Linked DNA regions of Homo sapiens: region 1 is linked to region 2. The links come from fine-mapping of genetic effects on gene expression. A gene starts in region 2. The other region holds a variant in brackets. All regions are shown on one strand. Distances are from middle to middle. Region 1 holds the start of NCKAP1L (NCK associated protein 1 like). Region 2 holds the start of PDE1B (phosphodiesterase 1B).

Region 1 (10,642 bases), 54 kb after region 2:
TGATGATTCGCTCCAGCTTATGCTGGAAGAATCCCATCTTATCTCAAAATGCTCAAGACTTAAAGCTCTACAACAACCTGAAGCCCTGTGGTTGAGCCTTGGAAAACTATTAATAAAAAAAGACTACTCCATCCCCTGCCAAGTTTGAAGAGAGGCATCAAAAGAGGAGAATTTCAGCCATTCAAGCAGAGAATTATTCAGAGAAAGGAGAGAAGGACCAAGTTCTCACCGTGCTGTTTCGGACATCTATGTTGGGAAATTTCTTGTTGATATACTTGAGAGATGGTTCCATGGACTTTTCCAGTAAGAAAGGTGGCTTAGATTTGGGGTCTGAACAAGTCTGCAGAGAGAAACCATATATATTTCAACCCTTTCTCCTCCTCCTCAGAAACATACCTCTTCTTGCAACATTCATTCTCATAATCTGTCTTAGGAAAAGGCAACCTGGGAACTAATTTAAAAAGCATGAGAGGCTGGGCGCAGCGGCTCACACCTGTAATCCCAGCACTTCGGGAGGCCGAGGCAGGCAGATCACAAGGTCAGAAGTTCGAGACCAGCCTGGCCAACATGGTGAAACCCCGTCTCTACTAAAAATACAAAAATTAGCTGGGCATGGTGGTGCACAACTGTAGTCCCAGGTACTTGGGAGGCTGAGGCAGGAGAATCGCTTGAACCCGGGAGGCGGAGGTTGCAGTGAGCCAAGATCGTGCCACTGCACTCCAGCCTGGGCGACAGAGCGAGACTCCGAAAATAAATAAATAAATAAATAAATAAATAAATATAAAAATAAAAAGCATAAGAGTAGGTCAAGAAAAAATTCCAAGACATTAAGCCAAGTATCTAAGAGCGAAATAACAACCTAGGCATTTTGTCTTGATGGGTAGAGTTTAATGCCTGCTTGGCCCCAGCACAAAGAGGAAGCTGTTTCCCCGCCCCTCAACTGAAGCCGGAAGGAACAAGAAAAGCAGCTGCTCAGGAGTTAGACTTTGTACAAGATTCAGTGTCACAATTTTGTTCACTATGTAAGTATCTTATCCCAAAGGGCATTTACAGGATTCATGGTGACAGAGAAACCGTGTTCCTGGTGATTTGTTTTATTACAAAAAACACAAAAGCTCCCTCCCCCAAAGTCCCCTATTTTCTATGCCAGGAACTCCCCATAAACACCCCTGTCTTTATCTCTTTACTTCCTATGGTTTGCCCAGCCCCTAGCCCACCTCTTGTCACTAGCTTCTTTCAATTCCTCAGTTCCTATTCTAAACACACACACACACACACACACACACACACACACAACCACCACAGCATGAACTACCCCAGGAGCAGCTCAGAAGACACCTACCCTTTTTAATCTAAATACCTAATTATCTATTTTTTTTCCTTTTAGGGAAGCACTTCCACAGAAAAGTTTTTGCCAGAGACCCAGCTTCAGATCTCTTCAGAGTGTAGAGGATCAACAATAAATAATAAAACCCAGAAGGTTGGACCCCAGACCTTTATCCAAGTCACTTGGAATACCACTGTTGTTTCCCCATCCCCACCCTCACCCCCATCCCCAGAGGAAAGCAGATGCCATCGTTGGGGCAAGAATCATATCTAGAAAGGGGAAGCCTTGAAAAGAAGCCTCCACTTCTGCCTTCCTGAACTGGCTGGCCTGTATAATCTGAGTGATTATGTAGATTATAGTCAGTGGAAAAGCAGTGGAAAAAAAGGTGGGAGTCTAACTGCTGCACCTGCCGCCTCAGGGTTCCCTGCCCTATTATTGTTGGAATAATCAGTACTAGTCCCATTGTTCATGCTTACCTTCTTGATGTTATACATACGGATGAGAACCCCCTGACCGCGATCATTCAGGATAGTGAGCTTCTCTGCTAATTTATGCTGGTAAGCAGATGTCAAAGACATGATGGCCACTGAGAGAGGAGCACCAGACAGCAATGTCTGATCTCCCCAAACACTTTCAGCTTAGATGGTGACACCCTCTGGCGGAGGGACCCAGCCTGGTTGGTGCACTGGTCTTCTGTTGCCTCTGCAATTGGCTCATGGGTGAAATCAGTCATTATGGCTCACAGGCCCTCAGAGCCTTCTTGTGCTTCCTCTTGCACACTCAGCAGGGGAGACTTCCTCTTTCTGGCTGTGCAGCACTTTTGGTAAGGCTATGAAGTGGGTGGAGCTGAGGAGAAGGACAGGCTTTCAAGGCTCTTCACAGACTGCACCAACCTTTTTGGTCTTATGCCCCCATAAGTGTCCTAGACAAAGCTGGGCGTGGTGGCTCACACCTGTAATCCCAGCACTTTGGGAGGAAAAGGTGGGAAGATCCATTGAGCTCAGGAGTTCCAGACCAGCCTGGGCAACATAGCAAGACCCCATCTCTATAAAAAATAAAAATTAAAAGCTGTAAGCTAGATAAACAAGTATCTACCACCCCACCCCTGTACACCTCTATATTTTCCTTCTTTTATATCCAAGAATGCCTATGAACCTTTGGCCTCATCATGTTTTAGTACCCAGATCAAATCCCATCTTCTCCTAAAGACCCCATCAATGTCAAATATTATATTGTATTATATTTTATATTGTCAAATACATATATTCCTTGTTATATGTTTATAGTGTACGTTGTATCTCCCCCAACTACAGCATAAGCTCCTTAATGACAGGAATTGTACCTAATACTTTTTTTTCTTTTTTTTTTTTTTTTTGAAACAGAGTTCCACTCTTGTTGCCCAGGCTGGAGTGCAATGGCATGATCTCTGCTCACTACAACCTCCACCTCCTGGGCTCAAGCAATTCTCCAGCCTCAGCCTCTGGAGTAGCTGTGGTTACAGGTGCCCACCACCACGCCTTGCTAATTTTTGTATTTTTAGTAGACATGGGGTTTCACCGTGTTGGCCAGGCTGCTCTCGAACTCCTGACCTCAGGTGATTTACCCGCCACAGCCTCCCAAAGTACTGGAATTACAGGCATGAGCCACCACACCCGGCCTCTAATACTTTTTTATATTTCTCACAATGCTCTACTACAGTGCATTGTACTTCTACAGTACATAATAATTCTCAAAGTAGTTCTCAAGAAGTACATAGTAATTCTCAAAATGTGATCCAGCAGCATCAGCATCACCTGGAAACTTGTTAGAGATGCAAATTCTTAGGACCCGCCCCAGACCACTGAATCCAAAATTCTGGGGTGGGTCCAGGCACTCTGTGTTTTAACAAACCCTCCAGGTGATTCCAATGCACACTCAAGTTTGAGAACCAGTGCTCTAGTACCATGGTATTTATGGATGCTTGAGAAACAGATCAATCCCTGTCCTCTGAGATTAGCATTGGTAGGTAGGCGAGTCTGTTGTGGGGCCTAGAAGTCTGTACTTATATAAGCACTGTTGTAGGAGGTTTTGGTACAAATATTCCATTCTGAAAAACACTGATCTAGAACAATACCTCTTGGACACAGTAGTCACTCAATAAATATGCTGGTTTATTTGTTGAATTATTAAGACTAAATTAGGAAATAGGCCCCATGAAGAAGAACCAAATTAATCAAGATTAAAAAGAGGAAATTAGTAATCACCCTTAAATCTTAGAGACTTGAATGAATTTTAGCATTAAAATATTCTTGCCATTCCAATGAGGCCTTAACTCCGTAACTCAAGAAAATTTTCAACTCTATTTCAACTTTCTTTCAAGACACAAAGCAAAAGGTCCTAGGAAAAATTATAAATCAAAAAGAGTTCTCTTCATTTCCACCACCTTGCCAATTCCTTTTCTCAGGTTTTTAATCATTCCCATTTTCCGTATCCAGAGTTCCCATTGTCCCAATAAATTCTAGGGAGTGGGAGAAGAGAGACAAGGCTGATCAGCATTATTACTTAAGAAGTTGGGGCCAGGTGAAGTGGCTCATGCTTATAATCCCAGCACTTTGGGAGGCAAAGGTAGAAGGATTGCTTGAAGCCAGGAGTTCAAGACCAGCCTAGGCAACATTGTGAGACCTTCCCCCACCCCTCTACAGATAAAATAAAATAAATTAGCCTGGTGTGGTGGTACATGGCTGTAGGCCCAGCTCCTCAGGAGGCTGAGGTGGGATGGTCGCTTGAGCCCAGGAGTTCAACACCGCACTCCAGCCTGGTCGATAGAGCAAGACTATGTCTCTAAATAAATAAATAAATAAATAAATAAATAAATAAAGGCAAGAAAGAAAAAAAAACTTGAGTACTGTGTTCACTATTTGGGCATGGGTGATGGGTTCATTAGAAGCCCAAATCTCAGCATCACACAATATACCCATGTAACAAACCTGCATGTGTATCCCCTGAATCTAAATGTTTTTTAATTTTAAAAAGAAACTTAACATCCATGCTCCAAAGAGAATGTATTTTTAAAAGAAGCAGCAAGATGGCAACACTTAACGCATGAAATTTCAAATATCTCTAAGGTAGAATTTGCATTTTAGGAATATAGA[A/C]TCTGCCTTCCATTTTATTTACTAGACTGGGTCCCTAGAAAGCTATGGGCTCGAGGTAATGTGATATTGGTCATGAAGATTTGAATTACCTGCTGTTATCAAAGAAACCCAGGTTTTACTAAAGCAATTTGTAGGATTTCTACTGGTCTTTTACCTTTACCAAGGAGAATATGGAGCAGACAGTAAGAGGCCAACATCCAGGAAGCTTAGCAGCAGCATAGCACCGGTCTTCGTGGGGTTAGTGTAATTCTAGCGGCTCTTTCTTGCATTCCTTTTTTTTTTTTTTTTTTTTTTCCTGAGACAAGCTCTCGCTCTGTTGCCCAGGCTTGAGTGCAGTAGTGCTATCATGGCTCACTGCAACCTTGACCTCCCAGGCTCAAGAGATCCTCTCACTTCAGCCTCCTGAGTAGCTGGGACTTCAGGTGCAGGCCACCACGTCTGGCTAATTTTTGTATTTTTTGTGAGCCACCTCACTTGAATTTCTTGTCTTTATCCTGAAAGTGTGGTTGAAGACTCTGCATCCCAAGCTAATCTTGTTTCCTGCTCCTTAATGGATACTCCCCAACTTGGTGGGGACCATCTTCTCAGCCTGCTGTGAATGTGCTATGTTCATGTCTGCCTCTCTGACTTCACTTACGCATGCTTTCCTTCTTGCTTACCCAAATCCTAGTCAATCTTCAGGATCTAGCTCAATAGTCCCAAGTCTAGGTTTTGCCGAACTCCCACAACACTTGGTCTATACCACATACTTTACATCTAAATCAGGTTCTGTCCTTAACTGCCCATTTCATATAATACTGCCTAGCCAGCTGAACCAAAAGATTGTTGAAACCTGGAAACACTTATTCCCCTGTACTTGGTATATGCGAAAAGCCTACCTGCTGTTATCAGACAGAATTTGGCTCAAGTGTAGTTGAGTACAGTGGGCTGAGCCTTATGATTTAGTGACCGAGAGCCCAGGTTCTGGAACCAGATATCTTGAGTTCACATCCTATTTATCCTGTCTGTAAAATAAAGATGATATTGATAATACTTCCTATTTCACGGAGCTATTGTGCATATTTTAAAAGTTATAGCCTAGTTACTTACTCTGTACATGTAAAGCATTTGAAGTACTATAAGCACTCAAGCTTACATGTATTACCTCAATTAATATTAATAATGCTAAACACTTACTAGCTTTGTAACTTTAGCTATCTATCACCATTGAGTTGTTTCCTAATCTATAAAATGGTGGTAATCCCTCATACGACTGTGGAACTGATGAAATAATATGGCATATGTAAACATTTGGTTCAAGACCTGCTACATTGGATTAGGAATGTCAACAGTAAAGTAAAATTTTGATCTTTGAGTGTGTAGTGAGCTTGTTATGTCACTTTCTGTGGATTCTATTTGACACTCATAAAGAAAAACTCTAGGTTTAAAAATGGAACTAGGCCAGACGCAGTGGCTCACATCTATAACCCCAGCACTTTGGGAGGCTGAGGCAGGCAGATGGCTTGAGCCCAGGAGTTCAAGACCAACCTGGGAAACATGGTGAATCTCCATCCCTACAAAAAATACAAAAATTAGCCGGGAGTGGTGGCACACACCTGTAGTCCCAGCTATTCAGGAGGCTGTGGCAGGAGGATTGTTTGAGCCCAGAAGGTTGAGGCTACAGTGAGCTGTGATTGCACCATTGCACTCCAGCCTGAGAGACAAAGCAAAACCCTGTCTCAAAAAAAATTTTCTGGGCTGAGTGTGGTGGCTCACACCTGTAATCCCAGCACTTTGGGAGGCCAAGGCAGGCAGATCACCTGAGGTCAGGAGTTTGAGACCAGCCTGGCCAAAATGGAGAAACCCCATCTCTACTAAAAATACAAAATTAGCCGGGCGTGGTGTCGGGCACCTGTAATCCCAGCTACTCAGGAGGCTGAGGCAGGAGAATCACTTGAACCCAGGAGATGGAGGTTGCAGTGAGCCGAGATCAAGCCATTGCCACTCCAGGCTGGGTGACAAGGGCAAGACTCCGTCTCAAAAAAAAAAAAAAATTTTGCCAGGCACGGTGGCTCACGCCTATAATCCCAGCACTTTGGGAGGCCAAGGTGGGCGGATTACCTGAGGTCAGGAGTTCAAGACCAGCTGGCTAACATGGAGAAACCCCATTTCTACTAAAAATACAAAAAAATAGCCAGGCTTGGTGGTGCACGCCTGTAATCCCAGCTACTCGGGAGGCTGAGGCAGGAGAATCGCTTGAACCCGGGAGGCAGAGGTTGCAGTGAGCCGAAATCATGCCATTGCACCCCAGCTTGGGCAACAAGAGCAAAACTCCATCTCAAAAAAATTAATGTAACTAACTATGCCAACTGGTAGTTTTTAGAGAAACTTATTGGAAAGATCATTCAGCAGTTTCTCCCATAAACTGGAGGAACCCTTCTAAAGGTATTTAATTACTCCCAAAGTATGGCCTGGTAGACCTAGAATCCCCTGTAGAAGTCTTTCTTTTTTTTTTTTTTTAATAGAGACAGGGTCTTGCTCTGATGCTCAGGATGGAGTACAACTGTGTGTCATGATAGCTCACTGCAGCTTTGAACTCCTGGGCTCAAGTGATCCTCCTGCCTCAGCCTCCCATGTAGCTTGGACTACAGGCACACGCCACCACACCAGGATAATTTTTTAAATTTTTTTATAGAGATGGGGGTCTTACTATGTTACCCAGGCTGGTCTTAAAATTCTGGCCTCAAGCAATCTGTCTGCCTCAGCCTCCCAAAGTGCTAGAATTATAGGTGTGAGCCACTGTGCCAGACCTGTGGAACTCTTTTAAAGCCACAATTAGCCAGAGCCCATTCTTGAAGATTCTGATCCAGTAGTTTTGGAGTGGGACCAAAGGACCTGTCACTTTAAAACTACTCAGTGATTCTCATGAACAATCAGGATTGAGAGCCAGTTCTCTAAGACTTAACTATGACATCAAAAATTTCCGAACCTCTGAGAAATCATAGAACATATGGTGGGAAAAGAGGAATTGAGTAGCTTGAATGGAAAGTTGATTCACATCACCAGACTAAAAGGTACTGTGCTTTCCCTCTCCTCAAACTTCAGCTATTTGTCTTATTTTTGTCTTACCAAAGGATCGTCTTCGCCTTCAAGTCACACTTGCCTTCAGATTCTTGACAGACACTCCTTCAAGAATAAGGTAGGTCTCAAGATCCTTTAGGCTAGGTTTAAGTGTCAAGGTGGCATCAAGGTTGGGAATGCTTTGGCCATGTCTAACATATATCAAAGGAAATGGTCTTAGCCTCCATTCAGCTATCCATAATCAGGTGAATAACCCAGCGTCACCAATTCTCGCCACCTATTCTAAAGCAGTCTTCATTTATTAAGACCAGGCTTATCAGTCTGGTCAAACTTCATACTTTTCTAGGCTGCTGGCCAAAATGAGGGTTTGGGGTTGTCTGAAGACTACATTTGGGTTATTGAAGATCTTTTTCCATTATCTTTAAAAATCTAAAGATAACAGTATACAACATTGAATTATGCTGCAGCCTTTATTTTCCAGAGAGCCAATTCACTTTATAATAAGGGTTCATGGCTCTAATATAATCATTAATATGCAGTGAAAGCTTTAAACAACTACCCTGACTTGTATTCCTGAAAGGTACCTGAGTCTAAATCCCTGGATTTAGTCACCAAAATGCCCTCAGGAAAATCTGACATTTAATAGTCTAGCTCTGTGCCCTTTATCTATGCCCTAGGCATGATGCAAAGCAGAATTGAAATGGACTATTCTAAGGCACTTTTCTATCCCTACTGCTTATTCCAGTCTGCCTTGATCTTATTTTTCCTCCATCAAACTATACTGTCCATGCTTTGCAGAAATCTCGGTGTAGCTGTTGCCTGGAAACTTGAGAGTCCTTAATATGAACGTCTGCTAGGATAGCTAAAGACAGCTAGCCATGGAAGAAAGTAGGCCTTATATTGGCAGTAAAATGTAGCAGATCTGAGATGGTATATTCTTGAATCACTTCTAGGAGTCTTCATATGTTAATACCTACAACTTTAGAAATTTGAGACTGACATTCTCAGGTAACTATAAAGTAGCCCAAGATTGGCATGTTGGCATGTACCTGTAGTCCCAGCCACTCAGGAGGCTGAGGTAGAAGGATTGCTTGAGCCCAGAAGTTTGAGGCTGTCATGTGCTATGATCACACCTGTGAAGAGCCACTGCACTCCAGCCTCGGCAACATCAAGGCCCCATCTCTAAAAAATAATTATTATAATTATAAAGTAGCCTGAACTTAAGCATTGTACTGTTCATACTTCAGATTCCTTTTCTCCAACAGTGGCTATGCTGACCTATCTGACAATTAGCATCTTTCCCTGGCAAAGAGCTTAATTTAGGTAAGTTGGAAAAGGGATGGAGGGACCAATGCTGAATAGTAAAGGAACCAGCTGTCCCAGCCTTTCTTTCTCCAGCACTCAAGCTTACAGTATGAAATTTCACTGGCTGGGCGCTGTGGCTCATGCCTGTAATCCCAACACTTTGGGAGGCCAAGGCAGGCAGATCACCTGAGGTCGGGAGTTCAAGACCAGCGTGACTAATATGGAGAAACTCCGTCTCTAATAAAAATTTAAAATTAGCCAGGCTTGGCACATGCCTGTAATCCCAGCTACTCGGGAGGCTGAGGTAGGAGAATAGCTTCAACCCGGGAGGCAGAGGTTGTGGTGAGCCGAGATCACGCCATTGCACTCCAGCCTGGCCAACAAGAGTGAAACTGTCTTAAAAAAAAAAATTCATCTTACTCCAGACTGAGTTTTCCAAGGACCTTTGCCTGTTTAATACTTTATTTGAGAGACAAGCACTCTATCTAACACAACTTATAAGACTAAAAATATATACAAACGTTAATTTTTTGCATGGAAGCAGTGAATTTCCCCTACTGTCTAACTGGCTAGGCTATTGCTTTGGTTACTCGAAACTTTCATAGGTAAGACTTGAGATACTCCTATCTTTCATATTACTTTTGTTTTGACAATATAAAATAGGTCTATGCCAAGACTACCTGATCTTAAATGTCATTCTTTTTATTTGACAACCTGTGGTTCCTACCATTTAGTCCTCATGGAGCCAGAAGCCTTAGAAATGTGTCCTTATGACCCAAACCACAGGAGGCCAGCCAGCAGATTACAGTACCACCTGTCATGCAGAAGAGTAAGTTTTCCTGATAAGAACTGTAAGCCACTAGAGGGAGAAAATAACCTCAGAAATAAAAAGTTAACGTTTTTAAAAAAAAAAATTAGGCTGTGTGCAGTGGGTCACACTGTAATCCAAGCACCTTGGAAGGCCAAGGTGGGAGGATTGCTTGAGACCAGGAGTTTAAGACCAGCCTGGACAACATGGCAAGACCTCATCTCTAAAAATAAAAAATAAAAATAGGCCAGGTGCTGTGGCTCATGCCTGTAATTCCAGCACTTTGGGAGGCCGAGGTGGGCGGATCACGAGGTCAGGAGATCGAGACCATCCTGGCTAACATGGTGAAACCTTGTCTCTACTAAAAAAAAAAAAAATACAAAAAATTACCCGGGCGTGGTGGCGGACGCCTGTAGTCCCAGCTGCTGGGGAGGCTGAGGCAGGAGAATGGCGTGAACCCGGGAGGCAGAGCTTGCAGTGAGCCGAGATTGCGCCACTGCTCTCCAGCCTGGGTGACAGAGCGAGACTCCATCTCAAATAAATAAATAAATAAATAAATAAATAAATAAATAAATAAATAAATAAATAAAAATGAAAATAAACAAGCTTCTGACCATATGTAGCACCTGGCAGTTCTTAATGTTGGAACATGGTATCTGTCTTCAGCATTTCCAGAAAGGGGTGGAGGATGGAATACAGGGAAAACCTAGAACTTTTTCCTTCTAGAAAAATCAAAGATTCTCTCCCTCTCCCTCTCCCTCTCCCTCTCCCTCTCCCCACGGTCTCCCTCTCCCTCTCCCTCTCCCCACGGTCTCCCTCTCCCTCTCTTTCCACGGTCTCCCTCTGATGCCGAGCAGAAGCTGGACTGTACTGCTGCCATCTCGGCTCACTGCAACCTCCCTGCCTGATTCTCCTGCCTCAGCCTGCCGAGTGCCTGCAATTGCGGGCGCGCGCCGCCACGCCTGACTGGTTTTCGTATTTTTTTGGTGGAGACGGGGTTTCGCTGTGTTG
Region 2 (10,351 bases):
TTTATTTAACAGCATTTATTGAGTGCCTGTTATGTTCAAGGTATCACACTAGACTCTGATGAAACAAAGATAAGCAAAAATAATCCCCAGTGGGGTCCCTGCTCCAGCTCATCTATAATGACCTTGAACCACAGCATAGAACATTGAGCCTAGACTTTGAGGGTCCCGAGTGCGTACCATGTGGGGAAAGAAAAAGAGAAAGGGACTATGTCTATACTGTCCCAAAGGAAGGGGGAAGTTCCATCTGTAAAATGTAAAATTCCAAGAGAAACTGGAGCAGAGAAAAGAGAGTGGTGTTTGTACCATCCTGGGAAAAAGAGAACTCATATTTATGCTTTTCCTATGTATATAACCCCCCTAAAGAAAAAATGAGGCAGAAACCCAGAGTGGTAGAATTTCATCACTTGGGTGGGTGTAGCAAAACAGGGAATACAGAGCCCCCTGCCTCTCTACACCACTTGATGGAGTTGAAGCAGGTTACAAGCTCTGTAGGAAGAGGGACTATGTCTGTTTTGTCCACCACCGACTGTATTCTCAGCATCCAGCATGCCACCTGGTCCATAGAAGGCACTCAAGAAATAGTTGTTGGATAAATAAATGAGCTGAGGATGGCAAACCAATGTCTGCTCATCGTTTTTCTTGAATCACAAAAGACACAGAAAATCATTTCTATCTCTTCTGGTCTTCTTCCCATTCCCTAAAGCCCTCTGATCTCAGAGAAGGGTGGACAGCCAAGTCAAATACTTCCTCTTAGGGTTACAGATGCTGAAAATCATCCTGGCCAACTCATCATCTCCAGATGGCCTCTTTCACCCTCTCTCATGCCTCAGTTTATGAGTTTGCTTAATTAGAGAAATTGTTCTGAAAATAGGGGTAAAATCACACAGTTAAGAGATTCTCTTCAGCTCATATGATACAGATTAGATTCTGAATTTATTTTTGACAGGGTCTTAGTGTGGGAAACAGAATTCTTGGATGCTCTTCCCAACAAAAAATTGCCCTGCACTATTATATTAGTGTGGGCTTTTTATCCAGAGTCAAAAACACCAGGCCTAGTCTCCCTGAAGAAAGTCTGGATGTCCTGATTAGAAATTAAAAGGGTAGAAGGGGGGGAATAGGATGTGTTGAGTAGAAGAATCTAGATAGATAGTTAGATAAATACATACAAGTATATATGCCATGTTTCCATTTCCAAGCAGTACCCAGTCCTAAGATAATCATGTCTATTTCCTATTTCCAGACTTAGCAACCCCTTCCCACCTTGACCAAAGGGGCAGGGGGATCTTTATTTCCACTTAAAAGGGGGAACATCTCCTTTCTCACCTATTCAGAAACCATCCCATTGAGAGGGTTGGGAAACTCCCACCTCTTACCCAGCAAAGCCCTAAATCCTTTTATTTCCCTTCATCTGATAGTCAAAGCCTCCCCAATATTCAAAAAGGCAAAATCCAGTAGGCCATCAACATAGATCAAGTTGGGATCTACCTTGATTTCAAGGTCTTTCTCTGCTTTAAGGACGTAAGACTGGGAATCTATTCCTGCCAATTAATAATCCGGAGATTGTACTTTTTTGGGTAAGTTATATTACATGTAGCTAGCTTTATTTTTTACTTGTAAATTTATTGTACAAAGCTAGCATTCTTAAGGACCAGACTGCTGAAGTGAGTGAAGACCAGAATGATCTAATCAATAAGAATAGGGATCCTTGTCCACCCTAATCTCATGTAAGGACATCTCAGCTAAGGCACTCTGGAGAGACAGATGCCTCTACTCCCTTCTCTTCCCAGGTTTCATGCCTCCTTCTGGGAATCCTCTTCTCTCACCACTGAGCACTTCTCACACTAAAGGAAGAAACAACAATTCATTTTCAGGAAAGGCTTTTGGTTAGAAATGTGTGGGAGATAGTGAAACTAGTAATACCCACTCTTTCGCAGGGCCCTGTTACCTGGAATACAGGCAAGGTAAGTATGATGAGCCACTAGTGTTAGGGGAGCCATCCTGAATTCTCCCATTTATGGACCTGGGGCCCTTCTTTACCTTTCAACTACTTCCTTATCTGCCCCTTTCCCCAGCTCATTTACCATTAACGCAGCGTCATTTTCTATCAAGAATCACACAGTGCTCCTCCCAACAAAAATCAGTTCAATCTGGTTTTCCATTTCTTCATCCCAGAACTCATTCCAAGGCTGTGCTTCATAGAGCCCAGCAAATTGGATTGGCCAGAGGCAGCCAAGGAGGAGGACTGAGAAGTACATTTGGATTCCAAGCCTTGTTGCCCACTATGCCTCAGTTCTCCCTAACGCCTCTCCAAGTAGCTAGTGTATAAATCAGACCCATCTGCCATAAAAAGGTGTCATCTTATCACCATAGGTGAAGTATTTAAAGAACAATACAACATAAGCATCTATCCATCCCCTACCCCCATCTCTCCCTCTCCCAGAACCCAGAAATAGAAAGCTTCGGTGCTCACTATGGAGAACATTGAGGAGGAACTGGGTTCAGGGCTATGTTTACTGTGTTTCCTCTCTAAACATCCATAGTCTCCTATCTGTTTCCTCTTTCCTGGGGCCATGGATTCATCTCGGAGAGAGGGACATCTTCTCTTGTTCCCTGATTAAGAATCAACAGACTGCGGAGATTTCCCAATGGCAGCAGCTGACTGGGAGATAAACATGGTGCATGGCTTGTCTTTGACCCAATCCTCTTTTTTTTCTAAGGAGCAGGGGAAAAGTTCCTTTCCTCCCCTGGGACTGGAGTATCAGATACCTGAGTTCTTCCTTCCCCCATTTATTCCTCCCCACATGCCCTGGTACTGCAACAATAGGAAAAGATGCCCAAATGTGCTTGGAGATCCTGGAAGACCCTATATAAACAAAAAGCCTCTGATTAAGCCAGTTACCTTGCCTTTGTCAATCAATATTTCTTCACCATCATCACCTCCTTCAGCTTCCAGGTGGGGGCTCCAACCCCCCCTCCAGATTCCACGTGGGTCCCCTCATCATTAATACATAGAGTGAGTTTCCAGGCCCCAAGAGATGAGCAGCTCAGGCATGGGGTAACCCCCACCCCACTTCCTGTGCATGAGGCAGAAACTACCAATCCCAACTGAGATACATATGACCCACAGGTTGGCACAAGTATTCCCATGCAGTAGATCTACAGCTGTGTGCAATCACTCCACATACCTCTGTGACCCACGCTCACTCATGCACACACATGTCATGTGGCTCACATCTGCACAACTCTGCACATGGATATGTGTGAGTCAGCCTGGCACCTCTACTGCCCTCCTGCAGCCCTGCCACACTGCATATACTGTGCTGCCTCTAGGCGCTGCGTGTGTCAGCCTGGGGTCCACAGGCACAGGCACATCGTTACCTTTGCAACTCCTAAGCCCGCTCCAACTGGCCAGCTTGCTCCGCACATGCCTTGCACATGTGGCCTGGCCACGCGTGTCAGGGCCGTGCTTCCTCGCACCTGCCAACATCTGTGCCAAAGAGAATCTACCAGCCCACAGCCCTGCTCCAGTTATCCCCCCTCCTCCTCCCGCTCAGGCTCCCTAAGGTCCCTTCCCCCCATTCCCGGGCCGGGGACTTACAGAGACCGAAGCTTAATCCACATCTTCTTGCTGGGGGCTGACTTCAGCTCCAGGGGTGACGGGCAATCCGACTCCTCCAGCATCTCCGGAGGACTGCGGGGGGACAGCTCCATGCTCAGCCACGGTCTACGGAACAGAAGGAGGAGACAGCACCTCGGCTCAGCTTCAGCCCCAGCCGAGAGACCCTCACCCCCCATCCCAGGCCCTTCCCACCTGCGGCTGGCGTGGACCAGCCAGGCCGGTGTCTCTAGGCTCGGCCCAAGCTGGCAGAGCTGCAGCTCCTGCGGCTCCTCCTCTCCCGCTGCCCAGCCGAGCTTTGGGCTCCCAGTCCAAGCTCTCCGCACCGCCGCTGCTGCTGCCGCTACCGCCGCCGCCGCCGCGCGCTGCCAGAGCCGCCTCCTCGCCTCTCTCCTCCTCCCCCGGCCGGGTTCCCCCCTCCCTCTGCTCTCCCTCCCTTCTCCTCAGCCTGCCCGCCAGTCTCTCACTCCTCACAGCCACTCCTCCCCCTCCCAAAGGAACGATTGGAAGCCGGGGGCACACACAGACAGAAGCGCCCAAGGGCGAGCGCACGCACACAGGCGCCGGGGACGAGTGGCTGCGTGTGCCCTGTACTGGCGGATGTGAGTGCGTGTTTACAGAGTGCAGCGGAGGCGGCGGGCTGGACTTCGGTGTGGGTGGTTGTGTGGGTTCTCTCCGTGTGTTTTGAGTTTCTGTGTATGTGGTTGTGGTTCCATGTATCCACGTGTGCCTAGCTGCCTGCGTGTCCCATGTCTGAGTGCGGGGTAGGGGATGAGCACACATCTTTCCCTGCTAGATCTGGACTCGGAACCCAGTCGGACCAGACCCCACCTGTGCTCCTGTCTTGGAAAAGTTCAGGGTGTGCCCTGAGCTGTGATGGCATCCCACACTTGGCCTCGGGTCCCTCAGCTTGATCTTCCCCACCTGTCTCCAAGACTGTGGCCTTCTCCATGGTACTTCTGCCTGCCCGCCTAGCAGATAGGAATTTCTTCCAAGTTCAAAGCTCTCCAGAGCAGGCATCTTTTTTTTTTTTTTTTTTTTTTTTTTTTTTTTTGAGAAGGAGTCTGTGTCGCCCAGGCTGCAGTGCAGTGGCGCGATCTCGGCTCACTGCAACCTCTGCCTCCCCAGTTCCAGCGATTCTCCTGCCTCAGCCTCCTGGAGTAGCTGGGACTACAGGCGCGGGCCACCACGCCGGCTAATTTTTGTATTTTTTAGTAGAGATGGGGTTTCACTATATTGGCCAGGCTGGTCTCCAACTCCTGACCTCGTGATCCGCCCACGTCGGCCTCCCAAAGTGGTGGGATTACAGGTGTGAGCCACCGCACCCAGCTTAACATCTTCTTCTTTGACTAGGTAATAACTCTACACAGCCAGGAAAGCATTCCTGATATCAAAACCCCTCCTGAAGCACTTCCAGCTCATTTTTTCTGTTCTGTCTTCAGAGAAAGAAATCTAGGAGCTAAAGGCCCAGCACAAAACAGCCTAGCTGGTTAATAAACATTTGTGGAAGGAGTGAACTGGAATTTGAACTCAAGACCTTGTAAAAGGGCAAAGCCTCCTCCATCCAACCGAGTCCTACCTAGGACTCTTGCAGGAACCACCTCTCTTGCTCCATATTGTTCTCTCCCTTAATGACCACCTGCTTTGGCATTGGGGAAACTCCTATGTCAACAGAAAGTGGAGATATATTCACTAACTACTGAATCCAAAACAGGCCACTAATCCAGGATCCCAGAATGTGAATTTTAATTTCAAAAAATTCTGGAGGTTGGAAGGAGGAGTGATCAGGAGAAGGTATTTACTCTGTTCTAAATACTGAGTGGAGGCTCCTCCTCTCCCAGTCAGAGAAGGAGAAAAGAAGTGAAATGGAAGGGCGAAGAAGCGGATGAACTGTCACAGCTAAGACTCCTAACATAAAAGAATTGCCAAGTTAGGTCAGCATTTAGATTCAGCAGAAGTATCAGCAGAACCAGCTCCCAGAAAGTACAGAGGCAGAAAGAGATGGCAGAGTCAGAGATGGAGAAAAAAGTGGAAATAATAAGGGACTTCCCACCCTCTGTCCATCTACCTTTAGCACACATCCCTTGGCTTTTCCCCAGACCCAGCCAAGAAATGGCTGCATCTGAGACCCTAGTCACACTCCTACACAGTCCATTTCTGAAAATTTGGGAGCAATCTCCTCCTTATCAACTGAAAATGAAATGGGCTGGAAACTACAAAAGAATTGCAAATTAGGATGGTGCTAAAGAGCTCTAATTAGTAAATTAGGATTAGAGCTAAGGAGTTTCCAAATTTAGGCAGGTCTTTAAACTAGAATAGGTGGGAAAGAGGCAAGACATACATCCAGAGGGCTCTCTCAACATTTCTTGTTAACACAGTGTCACATCCTGCTCTCCCAAGACCCCCTGCTCCTGATTCATTTTAAGGCTAATTCACACACACACACACACACACACACACACACGCACACACACACAAAGTTATTCGTGAAAGAGACATTAGAGTTCATCCACTCTAATTCCCTTCATTTAATAAATGGGAAAACTTCATAGACAACACAGTTTGATGGAAAAAGTAAAAATAAAAATAAATGAGAACTAAACTAACCCAGAAAAATTATAGGGTCTCACAGAGAGTAAGTGATAAAACCAGAGCCAAGTCTATCAGCCTTTTTCACTCTGTGGCTCCTTTCACTTTCTTTAGTCACCAGTCCTGGTGTTTAGTCTCAACCTCATTCCTCTTGTTGCAATACAATCCCATTTCTACCTTGCTGCGTCTCTAAACAGATAAGAATTGGGTATACTTGTTCCACTCTGAGGCTCAAAAGACAACTATTCTCTCCCTGTCTTTTCCTCTTGTCCTCATCCCCCACCTTTCCCAGGCTCCTTCTCATTCCTCTCCTTTTCAGCTTCTAAACTGCCCCCTACCCCTAGGAGGCTCTGCCTCCTCACTCCCCTAACCCCACAATCCTTTCCAACAAGCTTTGAGTTTGATAGAAACCAAAAATGATGCTTTGGCAGTAGGTGACGGATGGATGTGATCTGCCTCCTACGGGAATGCTATTTAAAGGGGCAGCCTCACAATCCTCTCCTTCCAAAGTGACAAGAGAAAAGTCTGCTCCTCAATCTCTCCAGAGCTGCAAACTCAGCTCAAGTTAACTTCTGACTTCCTCAACCTGCAACCTGGCCTGCTGCTCCTGCTTCCTATTCAAGTGGGAGGGAGAGTACTTGACAACTCATTGAGGTGTGGGGGCTGAAGGGGGATTCATCTTCATCTCCTTTGATGACAGGTACTTAGGAGAAGCAGGAGGCCCTGTGGGGAGGAGGACTGGAAGAACACTCTTCCCCCAACCGCGTGAGTGCATTTCAGCCATGTGCCAGCTTCTTCTCAAAGTCAAACTTTGTTGGAGAAGAACTAATATAAGCATGAGGACCTAAGGTTAAGGAAGCCTTGTCCCTAGCTGGGGGACACAGATATACCCTCCCTCCCTCCTGGATCCTGGTATTCACAGCACAGTTGTTCCCTTCCTGCAAAGCAAAGTGCTACAGGGCATCATCCCCTTGGCCAGGCCCTGGACCTTCTGCATTTTTTTTTTTTTTTTTTTTTGTGAGACAGGATCTTGCTCTGTCACCCAGACTGGAGTGCAATGGCATCATCTTCGCTCACTGCAACCTCTGCCTCCCGGACTCAAGCGATCCTCCCCACCTCAGCCTTCCAAGTAGCTAGGACTACAGGCAGGAACTACTACGCCCAGCTAATTTTCGTATTTTTTTGTAGAGACGGAGTTCGCCATGTTGACCAGGCTGGTCTTAACCTCCTTAGCTCAAGAGATCCACTGGCCTCAGCCTCCCAAAGTGTTGGGATTACAGACAACAGCCACCATGCCCAGCTAATTTTTTGTATTTTTGGAGAGACAGGGTTTCACTGTGTTGCCCAGAGTGGTCTCAAACTCCTGAGTTCAAGCGATCCGCCTGCCTCCCAAAGTGCTGGGATTACAGGGGTGAGCCACCACACCCAGTTCCTTCTGCACTTTGAAGCTGGCCCACCTGCCAACTGGATTGAACACCATGGCAGGGGAGGCAGTGTTTCTACTGTCCAAACAAAAGGGGGCACCTATGCAAGTATCTTGCCCCAGGCCTTGTGGGAGGCATAATTCCATCTCATTGCTGCAAGCAAGTTAATGGAGATGTTAATAAAAACACTACATTAATGAAAATGCTGAGGCTAGAACCTATTCTGTGCCTGTAAGACAAAACAATTGGGGTGAGATTTCTGATATCCATTCTTTAGTTCCTTTGGGCCTAAGTAAAGCAAACTTACAACCTGGGACACAACTTATTTTTTCCCAGGTTGTAAGAGGACAGAGACCCTCCTGGTAAAGGAAGCAAATTGCCTGAAATGCTGATGGGTCCTGTTACTTCTCTGTCCCTTCACCTCTGGACATTCACTTTTTGCTTCCGGTAGTAAAGGCCATCATGTCCTCACCTTCTCCAATTTGCTCCTTCTAAGGTCTCTGGATTCTAAAACCCAAGTCTTCCCTTGTGAAGAGGCAGACCGGGCAAGTAGAAAAGGTCTAGGACTGAACATCAGACTTGGGTCCCAGTTCTAGTTCTACTGCTAAACATGTGACCTTCATTAAGTCATTTAATATTTCTAAATCTGTTTTCTGACCTGAAATAGGAAAGCCTTCCCTGGCTACCTTGCAGAATTGCTATAAGGATGTGAAAGCACTTTGAAAAAGTATAAGTGGTAGAGAAATATGTGTGTATAATTATATGTTTACAAAAAGATATATCAAATGACAAAATTTTAGAAATAGAGAATATATCTGTGTTACCAGGAGCTAGAGATGGGGAAGGGGGTTGTGGGAGGAGAAAATTGCTATAAAATTGCTATAAAAGAGCAATGCGAGGGATCCTTGTGGTGATGGAACTGTTCTGTATCTTTTTTTAAATTATTATTTATTTTTTGAGACAGAGTCTCGCTCTGTCACTCAGCCTGGAATGCTGTGGCAGGATCTTAGCTTACTGCAACCTCCGCCTCCCGGGATCAAGTTATTCTGCTGCCTCAGCCTCCTGAGTAGTGGGACTACAGGCATGCACCACCACGCCCGGCTAGTTTTGGTATTTTTAGTAGAGACGGTGTTTCACTATATTGGCCAGGCTGCTCTCAAACCCCTGACCTCAGGTGATCCACCTGCCTTGGCCTCCCAAAGTGCTGGGATTACAGGCGTGAGCCACTGCGCCCGGCCTGTTCTGTATGTTGACTGCAGTGGCAGATACACAAACCTACACATGATAAAGCTGTATAGAAATAGATAACACACACACGTGCACACACAGAGAGAAATGAACATAAGCAAAACTGGGGAAGGAAATCTGAACAAGATCAGTAGATTATATCAATGTCAGTTATCCTGGTTGTGGCAGTGTACTACAGTTTTGCTAGATGTTAGCATTCAGGGAAACTGTGTAAAGGAAAATAGAATTTCTCTGTATGATTTCTTACAAGTGCAGGTGGATTAAGTATCTCAATAAAATTTTCAGTTTTAAAAAAAGGCATTCTGTCTACCCTCCATCCCCCTGCAGCAACTTGTCTTGCTGTCCTCTTAAGCAGTTCTATATGCAGATGCAGATGGAGGAGGGATCTCTATCCCCTCAAGCAGAAAAATATAAACATATAGAGTAGTTGTTCAGATACTTCTGAGCCTCCTCTTCCTCATCAACTTTACTCTCAGTCTCATAAGCCTGACACTGAATCACCCTTTAGAACATAAGCCCTTCCCATAGCAAGGAAGGAGGATTTGCTGATGCACGAAGCAGGATTCTCTATCGCTTCCACCCTAAAGAGCAGACAACTGTTGCTAAGAAAAATCTGTATGTTGATTATGGGTGCCAAGTTAAGAAAGTATTGACTAAGCCTGGGTCTCAAGAAATAAAAAGCAAACACATGTACAAAACCCCAAAACAGCTATCAAATAGGCTTCAGGAAGGCTGAATCGTTTTTGCTGAAAACCGACAACTGCTTCCCTTTCATCATGAAAGTATGGACATGACCCTAATTAACCAACTAGCTAATTATATTTGTCAATTCCAACCACTCTAGACCTGTGACATATATGATCTGTTTCTCCACTTCTCCCTGGCAGTGGATTCACAGAAGTGATGCATGGGGGCCACTATTTCCTGCCAAGGAGTTAAGTAAACCTAGTTTAGTGCTATCTTGAAAGCCCCCAGGCTCTGTGACGCTTGAAATTCTAATTAGCGCAGAAAAGGGCTAAGTTGAAACAGCTTGTACTCCCTCAAGGATACCCACTCTCAGGGCCATACAACCTAATGAGGTCTGTGAAATTTAAGATCCAGAAGAGAAATCCCTTCCTGGAGCAACAGCTATACCCAGGCTGACAAAAGGATTTGGGGTTAAATTAGTCCCTCCCAATAAAAGGCAGAGTACCCCCAAATGGTACAGGAGGGAAAACCCACCTAAGTCTGGGCCAATCAGTTGTCATGTAACCTAGAATTGACGGAGACTAACTGACCCTCTGCTCTGGGTTGTGGAGATATCAAAGCAGGAGGGGTTAAAGCAAGAGAGAACTTGTAACAAACAATGTAGTAGAGTAGGTGGGCAGTGAACATCTCTGAAGGGCACTTCCTCCTTGCCCCAGTAGGAAACGCAGTCAAGCTGGGGGCAAAGGAAGAGACCCAATGACCCCTCGAAGAGCCCCACAAAGGAAAA

The links. PIP is the estimated chance that this variant, and not a neighbour inherited with it, causes the effect.
Region 1: its variant is fine-mapped to the expression of PDE1B in whole blood (TOPMed, PIP above 0.99).

Annotation. Positions count from the first base shown.
Region 1 is chr12:54,489,053-54,499,694 of GRCh38, reverse strand. It overlaps NCKAP1L (NCK associated protein 1 like), which reads right to left and starts at 1,943. Exons shown (of 31, transcript NM_005337.5): 1 at 1,804-1,943; 2 at 230-340. The coding sequence starts at 1,905. RefSeq lists enhancers at 1,752-1,811, 1,922-1,981. The variant A/C (reference allele first, on the strand shown) is at 4,459.
Region 2 is chr12:54,543,233-54,553,583 of GRCh38, reverse strand. It overlaps PDE1B (phosphodiesterase 1B), which reads right to left and starts at 3,983. Exons shown (of 16, transcript NM_000924.4): 1 at 3,812-3,983; 2 at 3,599-3,724. The coding sequence starts at 3,711. NCKAP1L (NCK associated protein 1 like) reads right to left here. Exons shown (of 31, transcript NM_005337.5): 31 at 5,341-10,351. RefSeq lists enhancers at 2,805-3,433, 6,581-7,125 and a silencer at 3,999-4,058.